Linked DNA regions of Homo sapiens: region 1 is linked to region 2. Evidence: fine-mapped expression QTL. A gene starts in region 2. The other region holds a variant in brackets. All regions are shown on one strand. Distances are between the middles of the regions. Region 1 overlaps BGN (biglycan). Region 2 holds the start of HAUS7 (HAUS augmin like complex subunit 7).

What was found. PIP is the estimated chance that this variant, and not a neighbour inherited with it, causes the effect.
Region 1: its variant is fine-mapped to the expression of HAUS7 in unexposed skin (GTEx, PIP above 0.99).

Annotation. Positions count from the first base shown.
Region 1 is chrX:153,495,134-153,503,451 of GRCh38, reverse strand. All of the region lies in intron 1 of BGN (biglycan), which reads right to left. It also overlaps a transcript of HAUS7 not described here. Among named protein-coding and RNA genes, the nearest start is that of BGN, 4.3 kb to the right of the region's middle. The variant T/C (reference allele first, on the strand shown) is at 3,892.
Region 2 is chrX:153,465,734-153,474,004 of GRCh38, reverse strand. HAUS7 (HAUS augmin like complex subunit 7) reads left to right here and starts at 3,429. Exons shown (of 10, transcript NM_001385482.1): 1 at 3,429-3,555; 2 at 4,744-4,859. The coding sequence starts at 3,448. RefSeq lists enhancers at 2,900-3,194, 3,708-3,807, 3,958-4,137 and a silencer at 3,068-3,377.

The DNA.
Region 1 (8,318 bases), 29 kb before region 2:
AGCCTGGGGTGGCCCTCGGTGCATCTGGAGATGGGGAGCCCAGCTGGGCAGCAGGGGCCTCTGGCAGACCTGAAGCAGTCGCACGCCCAGGAGACCCTCACTTAGGGCCAGTACTAGCTGGGGAGGGGCTGTCTGGGGCTCCAGCAGAGCGAGGTGAGCCCCCTAAGCCCAGCTGCTGGTTGCAGGGGTCTAAGGAGGCCGTGGGGAGGTGGGGGCTCTGCCCCCAGGCCAGCACCCTATGAGCAGCCCCGCCCTGCCCGATGCTTCCCCAGTTGCCCTGGGGGCTGGGCTGGCTGCCCGGGGCTGCCGCTTTGGAGTCCTTGCTACCAGCGGGCCGGGGGCCTGAGGCCACTTCAGGGCCAGGTTGGGTCTGAGCACAAGCCCAGGAGAGGGTTGGGATGGAGGCCTGTCCTGTCGCCCCCATGCAGCTCCTCGGGTGCTCCAGGGAGCATCTGCTGGCACGCGTCCCCCCTGCATTGGCATCCCCCCTAGAAGCCACCCATGCGCCCTCCCACACCTGTGGACAGAGGGGCCTGTGGTGAGGCTGTGGCTATAGCGGCTGCCAGGCCTGTGGAGTGGCCTTTCCGCAGCCAGCCCCGGAGCCCTCCTGAGCCCACAGGCCCTGGGCCACACTGCAAAGTGGGAGTCGGAGCCCAAGGCTTAGCTCAGCTTCCCCCTCATGTGGAGCTGGACTTCATGCTGACCCCTGGGGTCACCAGGAGGCCCCTGCTGGGGCAGCACCGAGCCTCCCTCATTCTTTTGAGCCTTGAGATCCCACAGTTGCAGCCCAGGGCCTGCCAGCCTCAGGCCGGCCCAGCAGAACCTAGGGGAACCGCCCGGAGGGTCTTGGCCCCCAAGTAGGGAGAAGGCTCAACACTCACCTACCTGGATGGTGTTTCCCTTCCTCCAGGGCAGGGCAGGGCCTCCGATGCCTGCTGCCGCTGTAGGACCCTCTCCCAGTGCCAGTGGACACCCGGGGGCAGAAGGAGGAGGAGGAGGAGGAGCAGTGGGAGAGAACAGGAAGGGCAGGGTGGAAGCAGGAGAGCAAGATGGAGTGGGGGAGGGAGGAGACTGCCCTGCCCCTCCTTGCCGATGCCCCTGCCAAAGCCGCTACCTCCCAGGGAGAGTGAGTCAGGGCTGGGACACCCCGCCAGAGCCCTGGCAAGCTCCAGGGTGGGCAGTCCACCTGGACAGGTAGGGTTGGGGTGGTCCGGCTGGGCCTACGGGAGGCTGTGGGGAGGGGCTGGGGAAGGCCGAGGGGACAGAGGACCATCTGACCATGGCCAGCTTGGAGCCCCCCAGGACCCACGCATTGGCCTGGAGGAGGACTCTACAGGGACTCCTGCCCCGGGGCAAGGGGTCTCCCCAGGAGCTGGGACTTCCCTGCAGGCCCTCCTGTTAGGGAATCGGGCCCTCCACCAGGGCAGGGGGCACAGGCACAGGGCAGGCCAGTCACGGCAAGACTGGCCATCGGGGTCTCAGGCGGGTTCCCGGGACCAGCTGTGGGGCAACGAGGGCTCTGGAGGCAGGCTGCCTGATACAGTAGGATGTCTGGGGGGTCTCCAAGAGACTGAGAAAGGGGCAAGGGGAAGAGGTTCCCTCAGAGCGGGGAGGGAGGCTGAGGGCTGGAAGGCCCATACACCCGGGCCCCGTGACAGAGGCAGAAGGACAAGGTTTGGCTGGTTTTCCATGGCTCATGGCTGTGCCCAAGCAGTGGGCAGGCTGGAGGGGCGGGGGCCGGGCAGGCTTCCCGGCACATCCCTCATTTCCCCTCAAAGAACTGGCACAAAACTGAGACCTCTCCCGAGGAAGGGGCAGGCTCCGTGTCTGAGCCCACAGGAGGCAGCAAGGGGCCCATGAAGTCAGAGGGAGCCAGGGGAGCCTGGGGGGAAGGATAGGATCCCCTGGAGCTGGCCTGATGAGTATCCCCATTTTATGGACACAAAAGCTAAGGCCGAGAGAGAGGCTCTGATTTCTCCCAAGTCACTCAGCCTGACTTGGAACTCAGCTTTGGCGCCTCCAGGCCCCGCCTGAGCTCTCAGCTGTGCTCCTCAGCCACAGGGCTCCAGCCATGTCTCTGGGCCTGTGAGAGCCTGAATGCCCAAGACTGGGGGTGGCAGTTTGGGAGGTCCTGGCAGTATAGGCTCAGCTGTCCTCCCAAAGCCTGGCCCCTGCCTTCTCCCCACCACCTCACACCAAGCCCCTCCCTCCTGCCAGAACATGCACACACACACACGTACACACATACACACACAAACACACACACAGATGCACACATACACGCTCACATACACACACGTGCACACGCACACACCTATACAAAACACATATGTACACACGTGCACACACACATGCACACACCTATACAAAACACATATGTACACACATCCACATGCATCCACATACATGCACACATCCACACATATACGTGCACACACCTATACACACATGTACACACATATACATGCACACACCTAGACACTCACACATGCATACCCATGTATACACATTCACATACACATATGATACACATATACACACATATATACACAGATGCACACACACTCATGCACACATCTATACACATACATGCACATGTACATCCACATGCGCACATGCATGCATGTATACACACATGCACACATGCACACATACACACATGCACACACATGCACACACACGCACACATACACATTTATACACACGTACACACACACACACATGCATACATGCACACATACATACATACATACCTGCACATATACACCTGTATACACGCATACACATATGTACACACATACATGCACACATCTATACACACATGCATACACACATTCACATATACATATGTATACATATACACATACATACACATATATCCACACATAGATAAGGCAGGCGGGGACCCCAGCCCAGGAAGCAGGAATACCCCATAGTCAGATCCTGTGAGACCCACAGCAAGTCCCTCCAGTCCTCAACTCTCCACCACCACAACTGAGGCCTCTGGGCCTCAGTTTCCCTTCATTGGCCTCTCTGGGTGTGTCTTCAGGGACTTCAGGGAGGGTTTCAAGCCCCACCAAAGTGTGCCCTGAGCTCCCTGGATACCATCTCTTTAGAGCAAAGGACAGGGGCGGCAATGGCATAAGCCCCAGGTTTGGCGACCGCAGGTGTGAGTGAGGGAGGAGGCTGGGCTTCCTGGAGCCTCCGCCACCACCCCAATAGGGCCCTCCTTGTCTGCCCCTCTGAAAGCTAGCGCAGTCCTCTGCACTGGATTGCTCGAGGTCACAGCCAAACAAGATGCGTTGGCAGCCTCTGAGAACATGGAGGGTCCGTGCCAGGCATTCAGGCCAGGCCAAGGGCGGCGGGAGCAGGGCTTGAGGTCTGGCGGGCCCTGGGAGCTCGCCTGCAGATGGTGTGGCTCACAGCTGCCAAGTGGCAGACGCCGGATGCTGTCTCCGCAGCCTCAGCCCTGGGCGTCTGCCCCCCTGAGCAACCCGACCTGAACTCTGACACATGTGCCACCTTCCACGCAGCCCTGCGGGGTCCCCGGGACTGTGTCCTTCCTCCCCTCCCCTCTGGCCTCCAAAGCCTTTTGGGCCCAGTTTCAACCAGCAGCCTGGTGCTTGTGCCCCCGCTGACACCCGGCCTGCCCCCTGCCACTCTCCCAGGCCCCAGTCCACCAGTCCCTCCCCGCCGATGGCTCCAGCCTGTACTTGGGCATCAACCAGAGAGGGGATGTGTACCCTCCCTGGCCTTGCCAAAGCCCGGCGTGTGCGTTCATCTGTGGGAGTGGCTGCCTGAGGGGCTGGGGGCTGGAGTGGGGAGGGGTGGACCTTGTGCCACATTCCAAGCCCCTGCCGTTGCCGGAGCATGCCCTTCAGGCAGCCACGC[T/C]TGGGCGTCTGCTCCCCTTGCAGCCACGTGTGGAGGGGCTGGGAAACCCCGGCTCATCTGCTGCTCAAATCCTTTCCAGAGGTTTTCTGGCAGGGTGGCGACAAGGGTGGAGTTCTCCCTTGATGCGCCCAGCCACCTCCCACCTCTCTGTGCCAGCCCTTTGCAGCCTGTGGCGCCCATGTCAAGGTCCAGCCTGTCCCCACAGTCGGCGGAGTGCGGGACTCAGCCCTTCCCACTGTGCGCTCCTGGTCCTCTGCACACGGACTACTGCTGCCCCCTCCCACTCTCCGAAGAGATCCGGGGCCTCCTGCTAGAGTCTCCAAGGAAAAGGGAGGATGCTGTCACCTCTCAGAGGCAGAGCAGGGGACTCATGTGATTTCTTTACTTAGCATCCTGCCGTCCCCCGTTGACTATAAGAAGGAAGCAATGCTCTTAGAACTTGATGAAGGGGTAAACTGAGGCTCAGGAAGTTGGCCCCAAACTCTTGCCCAAGGCCACACGGTGAGGAAACAGCAGAGCTGGGGCTGCACACACTGTCTGTCTGTCCGTCTGTGTCCTTGCCCCCATGTCTGGACCCACCCTCTCCCAATGCACACAGTGCCACAGGCCCCAAAGCTGACACGCTTCACACTCTCGGGGCTGTGCAGGGGGCTCCCCTGGAAGCATGGCCCTTCTGAGGACCATCAGTAGCTCCCTATGGCCCACAGATCCAGAAGCCCCTCCTCAGCCCCAACACAGCCAGCAGGGCAGCCCCCGCCCAGCCTCTCACCTCTGCCTCTGTCTGCAGGGAGTCTCCTGGAAAAGCCATCGTCTCCCCAGGCGAGCACTTCAGGGCCCCAGGGAAGGTGTTCCCGGCCTGCCCCCCAGAGCCTGGGGCCCTGCCTCCCTCCCTCCCTGGTACAGGCCCACCAAGGCCAGGAGGGGAGGGGAAGGTTTCCTGCAGCCCCTCCCTGCCGCAACCCGCTCTCTGCCGGGGGCTCAGGCTGGGCTGGGATTAGCCTCCTTCAGCCAGCCAGGGTGGCCCACAGCCTGCTTAGCTTCAGGCTCCTGGGACTGCTGGGCTCCCATGGGTGTGTGTCTCTTTGCATGAGGGCAGCCTCCAAGAACCATGGGATGGCAGTCAAGGCCAAGCAGGGACTCAGACTTCCAGAGGATAGAAGTCACACTGGCTTCCCAGACTTCCCCTGCCTCCAGGGACAGGGCTGCCTTCTAATCTTCTGGCCACCCAGGAGTCTGCCCGCCATGCTCCCCTTGGCCCATCTGAACACCTCAGGGACCAAACAGGACTGGGATGGCCAGCAGAGGCAAGTTCAAGAGGCCCACAGAGTCCGTTGGGCCCCTGGTCCTCCAGCTTATCTCAGGCCAGTGTTTAAGTGGAGCTCAGGCTTAAGATGCAGTGGACCAGGAGAGTTCCATGCAAGAAGGCTGGCTAGAGCCCCAGGCCCCTAAGCCTCAGAGATGAGCCTCATGGGAATGGGCAGCACCTTCACCAGGCCTGCCAGGGAGCCGGGACCTGACCCTGCCCCTTGGGCTGGCTGGGATCAGAGCTGCGCAGGTGGGAAGCTGGGAGTGGGAGGGTTCTGCAGTCCTCGGAAGAGCCAAGGCTGGTGGCCCCTCCATAGCCACCCCAGAGGCTGCTCTGACCTAGAGCCATGACGGGGCAGGGGAAGAAGGCAAACAGCGAAACAGCGAAGGGGGCAGCTGGGATGGTTCCCAGGAGTCTAGAGTCCCAGAAGGGGCTTCTGGCTGTGGGATTCAAGTGGTGGAGGGGATCTTCTGGCCTGGAAGGGGACCTGGGGAAGGAGGAATGAAGCACAGGCCCCACCCCTCCAGAGGAGGTGGCCCCAGGCCTTCCCCAGGGAACCCTGGGAAGCTGGTTCTTTCTGGAAGGCTGCAGAAGGGCCTGGCCATGGGTCCTGGAGGCCACTTAGGCTAGGCGGGCCTCAGGCCAGGAGGACTGAGCCATGCGCCCTCCCCACAGCGCAGCCCCTCTGCACACACCCCACAGCTGGTCCCTCTAAGACTTGCGGAAAGGGCTCTGAGTGGCCGAGCTGTGGCCCCTGATCTCCCAACCCAGCATCTGAGCAGAAGAGGACAGGAGCTGGGGCACTGATCGCCCCAGGCCCGGTCGGCAGGGTGGGGGCCAGGGCCGGCAGGATCCCGGGTTGCGCTGCCTTCCGAGGGAGCCGGTGCCCACCCAGCGGCCTGCAGCCCAAGGCAGGGTGCCCTGGGAAAGCCACCGCCACCCCCAGCCCCTCGGTGTGAGCAAGACCCCCAGCTGGTGGGTCCCCACCCACCAGTGGGGCTCCCAGGCCTGTCGGGGGCTCGGTGGTGGGCCTGGATGCTAGGGGGGCAACGTGCGGCAGGGACCAAGCTCTCCGGCCCACAGATGAGTGGGAGGGGGTCGTGGTGGGCATGGGAAGACATTTCCGACAAGCAGGGGTGTTGGGGGGTGAGCAAGGCAGGGGAGGGGCCCTGGCAGGTGGGGTGCCAGGGACCCCAGGGCTGGGGCTAGGCCTGTGGGTGGGGCGTGTGCTGGGGATTCTGTGGGCCGAGGACATGTGACTCCCGGGCAGGCTGGAGATGCTGGGGGGTGGGGGGTGGGGGGTGGGCCCGGGAAGCACAGGAGACGGCAGGTGGGGAGGTCCTCATCCCACCTCTATACGGGGTGGCAAGGACTCAGAAGCCCTTGCTGAAGGCTCTGAGTGCTAACTGTCAAGTGTGAACTCATTACAAACCCCTCCTCTGGGGACTTGGCGCTGTCACTGGAAGGGACACGCTATAGCTTTGTTTGAGTGACTCTGGAATGTTGCTAAAGACAGGAAACTCATTCTTGCCTTGGAAACACCCCCCTTCCTTTCCCAGACTCCCCATCTATGCGTTGGTAGGGTTAATGCCCACTGCCGTACGGGTCCTTGGGGCTTGAAGGTGGGCCAGGGAGGCCAGGGCTGCCACCCACAGCTGGCCAGCTTGCCATGGGAGCCCTCTCTGCTCCCTGGCTCGCAACCTGCTCCCACCGCCCAGCCCTGGTGGCTTGGAGGCAGCCCTGCATCTTCCTTTCAATATACCCACACGGGCTTGCCCTCAAAGGCTCACCATGCTGGCCCACAGTGGCCATACATGGGCATGCTCCGCACCAAGACATCCATGCTCATACACCAGCTCTCCTGGGGTGCGGCTGGCACCGGCGGCTGGGTGTCACCAGGAGGTGCTCACCCGCACCCCTGGGCGCTGGTCCCCGGGAGCCTTTCTGGCACGGGGGCAGGGGGGCTGAGCATCTCCAGCTTGTCTCAGTTCCAATTAGTTGCTATAGGGCAGAGAGCTGGCAGGCCAGGGAGGGGCGAGGGCCCAGAAACAGGACCCCCTGAGGATGGGACCTGAGCAGTCTGGCAGCCAGGACAGCAGGAGAGAGGCCTGCCCACCAAGACAGACCACTGGAGACTGATGTACCCTGTGCCCTGCAGATCCCTGGGCCCCCTGCTCTGCTCAGCAGGCGCTCAGGCACCCAGCCCCGCCCATGGAGCAGTGAGGGGGCGCTCCCCTCCGTGGGCCTTCCAGGGCACTCTCTCGCTCCCTCTCCTGGGTCCCTTGGCAGGCCCCTCTGGGACCCCAAGCCAGGTCCGCCCTGGGGAGCATGGCACAGTTGCCTGATTTTCTCTCCTTCCCCTCCACACCCATTCTGAGTCCCAGTCCAAGGGGGTCCTGGAAACAGACAGGGCTGAGCCACCCAGGCACCCCCAGTCAGGGCCCTTGCAGCCAGGGCTCCCAGGACCCAGACTTCTCACAGAGGATGTAGAGGCAGAGCATTAACCTGGGGGTGAGCGAGCGAGGAACATCTGGGCAGGGTGCCTGGGGTGTGCCTGGGAAACTAAGTCTTTCAGCCCATGCCAAGGACTGGCCTCAGGCAGTGCAGCGGAGGACTGCTCCTGGGTGCTGAGCTCGGTGGGCGCTGGGCGGTCCTCCCCGATCCGACCCAACCCGGGCCAGGCGCCAAGCCCTGGAGCAAGGAGGCGCCTGGGCAGAGCGAGGCTGAGGGAGTGGAGCATGCGCCTGGGACTTGCAATGATGAAACAGGGCCATTGGCAAAGCTGGGGTACCAGTCACCCAGCCACGCTCTAGGGTGGTAGCCAAGAAGACGGACCCCGAGCGGGAGGCAGAGAGACAAGAGGTGGATGAAGCAGAGCAAGGTCAGAAGGGAGAGGGAGAGGAAGGGGTGAGGGAAAGGTGCCTGGAGGGCGGCGAGACGAGGCAGAAGCCTGACAGGGACCAAGGGGGCCGCAGGGTGGCGATGAAGGGGCGTGGATCAGCAGCCTACAGAGAGCACCGGGGAAATCTGTGGACACCCTCGCGGCACTGGGGACAGCAGGACCAGGGCTTGGGACAGCGGAGGCAGCAGAGCCAGGGGCATCTCTGGGTTGCTGAGGAGG
Region 2 (8,271 bases):
CCCCCATCTGCAAGGATAGGGCTGGGTTTCGGGTGGGCTCCTGGCTGGTGCAGATGGCGTGGGCTGCCCGCAAGACCTGGGTACTGAGCCTGCATGCCAGGATGCAGGGTGGATGGGTGACCAACAGCTCAGCCTGGCAGCTTAGCAGCAGAGAGGTCCCAGGAAGACAGGGAGGAGATGAGGAGAAGGAAGAGGGAGAGGAGGACAGGACGGGGAGGGAGGGGAGGGGAGGCAGAGGCAGCCCCCTGGCTTTGCCTTGCCTGCGGAGAGCCTCACACTCAGACCGTCCTGAGCCTGACCTCATTACTCTGTCACATTTCTCCCTCAAACCCAATGCCAGGGCTCACCACTTGCTTCTCGCATGGGTGTGATCAGCTTCTCATCTTAGACCTGAACTCTCCCCAAAACACACACACGCACACACACGCACACACTTGCCTTGTCTTCAACAGCTTGCATTTGGTACTCTCCACCCTTACTGAGGAACTTTAGTGGCCAGGGGTGGGGGGTGATGGAGGACACTTCAGTCCCTCAAAGGCTCCTCCCCAGGTTCCCTGGTTCAGGGCCGGGAGTCGAAGTGGCCCCGTGGAGCAAGGCCTTCTAGGGCTTTAGCTCTGACAGCATTCTAGGGCCTAGGCGCCCCCAGGTGGGGTGGCTCCCCCTCAGGTCTAACTCCAGCCCCTGCCAGAAGCAGACCCGCCTCTGCAGAGAGGAAAGCCCTTGGACTTCAGCTTCCTTTGATTCGCGGTGTCTTTGGGGGATTGGGGGGTCCCTGGTTGATTCCCGCTGCACCGTGGGGTCTGCCCTTAAGGTCATATGAAGAGCAGGGCCCGGATGCTCTGAGGACTTTTTCAATACCCTCCACAGGTCAGGGAGGCTGCCCACTTGGTGAGCTCAACTGTTTGGCCATATATCTCTGGGCCCACCACACAAACTGAGAGGTCTCGAATGCCACCAGCACCCGCCAGCCCATCTCTGGCACAGCGGGGCCAGTGCCGTGAACCAGTCTCATTTTCCAACGTGTTTTCCAAGCACTGACACGGCTGAGGCCCTGCTGGGACGCATGGCCAACTTTCCTCCATGACCAGGACCCCCCAGCTTCCCCGCCACATCCACAGCTTCCCCCCAACATCCCTCCTCCAGGTCAATGGGTCCTTCAGCCACATTTTTGGCTCCTGACCCACCCAGGCCTCCCTCAGAGAACCTGGGGTCTCTGGGTTGGAATGTCCCTTAGAGATGTGCCCCCTCCCTCCCCCATGGTAGGACTCAACCCTCCACATCCCCGCCCACCCACCTCCCTGGGCTTGTAGACCTTCTAGGACCGGGAGCTCCCTTCCTCTCCTGGCAGCCAGCTGGTGTTCAGACAGTGATTTCTGGGAGGAGTGCTTTCTTGGACTGAGCTTGAGTCCACATTTCCAGAAGCTTCTACCTCTGGGCCCCTTCTTTCCCCCTTCCTGAGAGGCCCAGCAGCCTCTCTGTTCCCTCCCCAGCCTCCAGCTTTTCCGGAGGAAGATGCCTGGGAGGTGCTATGATTCTGGGGGCGGGTGGTGGGTGGCAGGTGGTGGGTGGTGGGTGGTGGGTGGTGGGGTGGCGTGGGCAGGGAAGCTGCAGCCTGCTGCTGGGTCTTCAGCGACCATCTCCAGGGGCTGAGGGCTGGCCAACAGGTTCTCCATGAGGGGGATGGCCTCCATAACCTCTCAAGATGATCTTCGCCTCTCAAGGCCCTGCCAGTTCCTCAGGGTCCCATAGACTGAACTGCTGAGGTTGGGGAGGCCTGTTGAGCACACTGGCTCCGTGGAGCTGGGTGGAGGAGGGAGATTTTCTTCCAGAGTACACAGGAGCTGGTTTCTTCCCGGTCCTCAGGAGCAGAGAATATGGGGAGGGTTGGGGGAGGCTGCCACACTGCCGTGGTTTCTTCCGCCAAATTCCCCAGTCCTAGGAAAGATCCACAGAAAAACCCACAAGAATTTGAATGTCTGAGCTGGGGCTGTGATTGAGATGAAATTTTCTAAAAAGAAAGAAAGAAAAACAAAAACAAAAAAGAGGGAAAAAAACGCTTAAAAAAAAATCCCAAAGCCTTTGACAGCCCTCAGCTACCAGAAGGGCCTGAGGCAGCAGCCACGTGGAAGGGTAGAGAGCAACCTTGAGGCACTTCGCTGGGCCTGTGTCGGGGCCTCCCAGGCTGAGGTCCCTTCCTGTGACCCCCGGACTCCTGCCCGCTCCCTCCTCCCAGGACGGAGTGAAGTCCCCTCCTGTCACTTGGATGACTGCAGTTGCCTCCCAGCAGGTCCCTGGGTCTCCCTGACTATAGACTTGCCCCCTGATCCCACCCTCCAGGAGATGGCAGGGTAGGGCACAGAGGAGGGCACAGTGGCAGCTGCCTGCTGCTGTCTCCTGGCTACTGGGCACAAGCCACCCTCCAACTCCTTCCTGCCTTGCCCAATCAGCAGGTCCCTGGGTAAGGGGCATTCAGTGAACTGGGGGCTTTGCAGGTCTGGGGGAGGAGCGACTGACATATTTCATTGCAGACGCATTGAGTTTGAGGGTCCTGAGGGATGTAGAAAAATTTGTTAAGTAGACAGGATAGGAAGGAGCCACAGGTAGCCCCAGGAGCCGTGAGGGGAGCAGGGCCCAGCATGTATTACAATAGTGAGCATTTACGTGGTTCTTCGCATGCGCCGGGCACTGTTCTAGGGATTCCACAGGAATTATTACCGCCTGCCATCCTCATTAGCAACCCAGTGGGTAAGGTGCTCTCATTAGCTCCATTAGGTGAGGGCAAAGAGGCACAGAGAGGTTAGGTAACTGGTTCAAAGGCACACAGCTGGTGAGTGACAAGAAATTTCCTTCTAACTACAGCGTGAGCATGGTGAAGAGAAGACGGAGCCCCGCGCTGGGAGAGGAACGCTTCAGTCCGAGTTCCATTCTGCACCCAAGGCTCCCCTTGGTCCTCCTGGGAACCAGGGTGCCCCTTAGTGGTGGTGGCCCAGGAGAACCCGACCAAGGCAGGAGCGCCCCCTCCTGGAAGAGCCTCGCTTCAACGCATCATCATTCCCGGCCGGCAGCAGGGGCGACGCCAGCAAGGCCTGCGACTCAGAGCCAGCTTGGCCCGTTCGCCCCGCCCCTTCCCGGTGTCCGCCCCGCCCCTTTCCCGGTGTCCGCCCCGCCTCCTTCCCGGTGTCCGCCCCGCCCCCTTCCCTGTGTCCGCCCCGCCCCCTTCCCTGTGTCCGCCCTGCCCGCTTCACTGTGGTCCTGCCTCTGGGTGGTGCCGGGGCGGGGGGTGGGAGCCCGGGGCCCGCGCAGGCGGAGATGTCGCCCAATGGGAAGGGTCGGTCGGGAAGGGGGTGGGCGCAGGCGGGTGGGCGGGAAGAACGCTGGAGGTTGATTGGCGGTCTTGCCGGCCAGTGAAGCCAGGGCATGGGCGGGGCGCGGCTCGGAGCGCGAAACATGGCGGGGCAGGACGCTGGCTGCGGCCGTGGCGGCGACGACTACTCAGAGGACGAGGGCGACAGCAGCGTGTCCAGGGCGGCTGTGGAGGTGTTCGGGAAGCTGAAGGTGCTGTTGGCCCAGAAAGCCACTCCAGGGCGGGGGACCGGGGAGGGCCCCGCCCGAGGCCCGGGAGGGCTTGCTGCGGAAGTCCGCGGCGCCACGCGGCCACCGTCGCCGGTTCCGGCTGCGCCCTGTTCCCTTGCAGCAGGGGGTGCTTGTGGATCATTCATCTTTGCCCTTTGGTGTGCCCCAGGCCTTCGTTCTTGCTGTCTCCACGGCCCGTGCCTGGTAGTTGGGGCCAGCACCGCCTGTGGAACTGCAGTACCCGCGCTGGGCGCTCGGAGCAAGTGCAGACACAGAGGACCCAGGCCTGGCCTTAGGGATCTTGCGGGGTCTGGGGGGACAGATGGGCAGAGCCTCGTGCCACTCTGTCAAGTCAGCGAGACTAGGGCTTGGTGTCAGTTGGTGTCAGATGCCAGGGGTGATAGCCTCCAGAAGCCCTCTACAGCCCCACAGGACAGAGCCCTCACTGCAGCAGTGAGGAAAGCTGGCCCACGAGGTTAGGGAGCTGTCCCAGGTCCCCTCGGCCCGCTCGCTCCTCCCCCCAGACACTCCCCCATCCTGTCCGCGACTGGCTCAGTGGTCCCTCTCCCTTTCCCTCTCCCCTTTCCCTCAGTCCCGAAACCTAGGACTCTCTCTTAAGTCTTAGTCTCAGGCGTTGCTCCTAGGTCCTGCTGCCACAAGAGCCCAGAGTGGGAGTACTTGAAAGAGGTGGGGTCTGCATGCCGCGGGAGATGTGGGGTTAAGAATGGGGGGACTTGAACTCTTGGCAAGATGGCAGGACGCGGGTAAAGGAAAGGGTCCTGGGAGCTTGCAGATGTACACTGAGGACTGGGCGCGGCGGCCCACGCCTGTAATCCCACCACTTTGGGAGGCTGAGGTGGGCAGATACCTGAGGTCAGGAGTTTGACACCAGCCTGGCCAACATGGTGAAACTCCGTCTCTATTAAAAATACAAAAATTGTCCGGGCGTGGTGGCGCATGCCTGTAATCCCCCAGCTACCCTGGGAGCTGAGGCAGGAGAATTGCTGGAACCCAGGAGGTGGAGGCTGCAGTGAGCCGAGATCATGCCACTGCACTCCATCCAGGCTGGGCGACAGAGTGAGACTCCGTCTCAAAAATAAATAAATAAATAAAATGAAATGATGTACACTGGGACTTTCAGTGAATGTTGCTTTCCTTTTCCTTGCTTAGGACCTAAACTGCCCCTTCCTCGAGGGTCTGTATATCACAGAGCCAAAGACAATTCAGGAACTGCTGTGCAGCCCCTCAGAGTACCGCTTGGAGATCCTAGAGTGGATGTGTACCCGGTAATGCATCAGTTTCTTCCTCTTCCCACCTGGGGTGTGCATGGGCGCCAGCCAGCCCCACCTGGGGAAGATGGGGTTTGTGGTTACTGTGAGTAGCTGTCTTCCCAGAGGGCTCCACCCCCTAGCCTGGACCCTCGTGAGAACAGCTGTGTAGGTAAGGAGTACTGGTGACAGGCATGATCAAACTTGGGGCAAAGTGGCCCCTGGCGGTGCTGGGCTAGTCCAGCCACCCCTTTGCTGCAGTGCTGAACTTGCCCTCAGCGTTTGCCTTGCCTTATGAGTTTGGAGGTTCAGGACTGGCAGGCACCTGAGAAATGCTCCATTCCAGTCCTTTCCTTCTCAGACCCGGAAGCCAAGGGTCAGGCTGGAGGCATGAACAGTCTCTGGTCTCCCAGTGGAGGAGTGACAGGCAGGGCCAGGGCGTGGGCTCCTGGCTGGGTCTCAGCTGGCCAAGTGGTCCTCATGCAGTGTCACCTCTTGTCAGCTTCTGTGCCGTGACCCGTTTCCCAGTCCTCTGGTGCCTTTGGGCCAGGGTGTAGCATGGTGTGTGCCTGGCACCCTATGAAGCCCATGGTGACAGGGTGACTTCCTGAGTGATGGTGGAGGAAATGATCCAGAGTGTCCCATTCCCAGGGCAGACATCCTTCCCCTGGTGACGTAGTCCCTGAGCTGAGGGTCTGTCTCACTGCCTCACAGCTGTGAGTGGAGAAGGCTTTCCCCGCCTCCCACAGAGCACAGGCTCCTGTGGGATTGGGTGTGTGCCCAGGCCATGCTCAGGAACAGCTGTAGTCTGTTGGTACAGGAGCCTCTCGTGAGTCCAGGCCCGGGCCTCCCCCTCCTCAGCCTGCGGCCTGCCTACCCTTGCTGCTTGAGGAAGGGGCCTGGGCGGGAGCCTGGCAGTAGAGCAGTGGGGAGCCAACCTGCATCCAGCCGGTCTGGCCCGCCAGGACCAGAGACATCAGCAGGACGCCCAGCTGGATACAGGCCCCCAGAGGAAGGAGGAGGCGTTTTTGTGTTTGAGCCCTTGCTGTTCCAGAGGCGTCTCCTGCCTCTGCCTTCTAGGCCCTTCCTCAGGCCTCTCCCCAGGGCTCAGCACAGCAGCTCCTCGCTTCATAACCTTTTGCTCTTGCTCACATTGTTCCCCCTCCTGGAAATGGCCTTCTAGTCTCTGCATGTCGTACGTCCTCCTGTACAGCCCGCAAAGACCCAACTCACACGTCCTGTCTCCTTTTAAAATGTTTCCTGTTCCCAGGGCAGAATGTATTCCGCTTCCCTCTGGATGCCCACAGCCTTTGAGCACACCCTGCCCCTGCTGGAGCCCTCAACCTGTGGGTGCACTCTTGGCCTGCTGTCATTTCCGGCTCTTTAGTATGGGAGCCGCAGCATGGTGTGGCCGTGCAGTCGGGGGGTTCTCCAGGCTGCACCTGTGTGCCATTCCACGCGCTGCAGACGTGACTGGGTGTCCTCAGGAGCTGGGTATTTAGTGGGTACAAGTCCTGGGGTTCAGCAGAAATGATGCACAGCACTGCAGTCTGAGTTGGGTGCTGTGGATGTTGGCAGGGAGGAGGTGGCATTTGATCTGGGATGGGGACGGTAACAGCGGGGTGCTCGTTTGGACAGGAGCAGGGAGTTGAGGTGTGGGAGAGAGAGCTGGGCAGCAGCAGCTGGAATGGCAGCTCAGGGCAGCTCCCTCAGGGCCTTGCATGCTGTGCCAAGGCCTTTGAGCTTTATGTTCTGGGCAGGGCAGGCGTGGAACCTGGGGAGCGACGTGCTGAGATTGGCATTTTGGTAAGGTGACTCAGGGTGCTCTGTGGCAGATGGATTTGGAGGGCAATGGCTGCAGGCAGGGAGACCAATACCCCAGGGAAAGACAGAAGGAGCCCTGCGCTGAGTGGCAGATGGCTTGTCTGGCAGCCACTACTGGCCCTGGAGGGACCAGCCCCTGGCCTGGGAACCTGGGAGGCTGGGAGGTGAGGCAGGACTGGAGATGGCTGGGTGGAGTGTGAGGGTCTTGAGCGAGCTCCCAGGAGGAGGCTCTTGTGGGAGGGGGCGCAGATTTGCCTGACTCAGGTGGAAGCTGGGGGCACTTGGGGAACTGGGGTCATCTGGCCAGAGAGGGACGGGTAGGAGGCCAAAGCCACGCCCCTCAGATGCTTCTACAGGTTGAGTGTCCCATATCCAAAATGTCTGGGGGCCAGAAGTGTTTCAGATTTCGATTTCTTCGGATTTTGGAATATATGCATTATACTGGTCGAGTGTCCCTAATCTGAAAATCCGAAATCTCAAATGCTCCAGTGAGCATCTCCTTTGAGCGTCATATCGGCGATCAGAAAGTTTAGGATTTTGGAGCATTTCAGGTTTTCAGATTAGGGATATTCAACCTGTAGTACTTCTGTAAATACCAGAAACCGAATCCTTTGAAAAAGCTGCCAGGGAGCATACGATGACGTTGTCTGATTTCAGGTTGGCGAGAATTCCTTAGGCCTTTTGAGGGTCCTACAGGAGAATCAGATGGATGGGAGTTTTCCTGTGAATTTCCCATTGCCTTTCTTTGTACGTGACCGCACCCTGTCAGCCCCATTTAGGGCCGCCTTTTCATCTCCTCCCAGTAGAACCTGGAAGCTGCACCTAGTGTTGGTCCTTGGTGTGGGTTGGGGCAGAGCTCATGGAGCCCCCTGGATTGTGGAGGTCAAGGCCCTGTGGCTTTCCTTGGGGCCTCCAAGGCCTCCAGCATTTTCTGTTCCTGCTCTGCCCTCTGCTGTGACGGTGCGGTGACTTGAGTGACAGCCCTTACTGAGTCTGGCTACTGGGGCTTCTGCAGCGTGGGTTTTGAGTGTGTTCAGGGTTTACTGTGCCCGCCCTTGCACAGTGCTGGGTGAGTGCCCTCTGCTCCTCCGAGCCTTGTGCTCAGAGATGTTCTCGGCAACCCCGCTGGCAGAGCCCAGCCTGCTGGCCTCCCCCTTCCTTCCCCAACCCCGCTTGCGCAGAACCCACGGTTGTCTTAATAAGTCACAGAGGTGGGTGGTGCTGTGGAGGCAGCCAAGCCCAGCCCGATCTCTGTTGCAGTTCTGGGGCAAGTGTGGCCTCTCCAGGGAACAGCCACCAGCCCTTTCCCACCACACGAGTCAGCAGGCTCCTAGAGTGATGGCAATGGTGAGGTGTAGCCAGGCTCTGGCAGCCTGGTGGAAAGCGACTCCTTCTTGTTTATGAAAGGCTGCTGTGGTGGCAGGTGCCTGGGGCTCCCGGGTAAGAGCCTGTGGCCCCAGCGGCCGGAGTGATGTTTCTGGGCCTCAGTGTCATACCGGGCTTGAGGCATGGGGCTTGGGACTGGGGATGCAGTGCTTGGGCTGTGCTCCCCTGAAGGAGGAGACCCAGTGGAGGGCTGAGCCGTGTGTCACCTGTGGTGCATGTC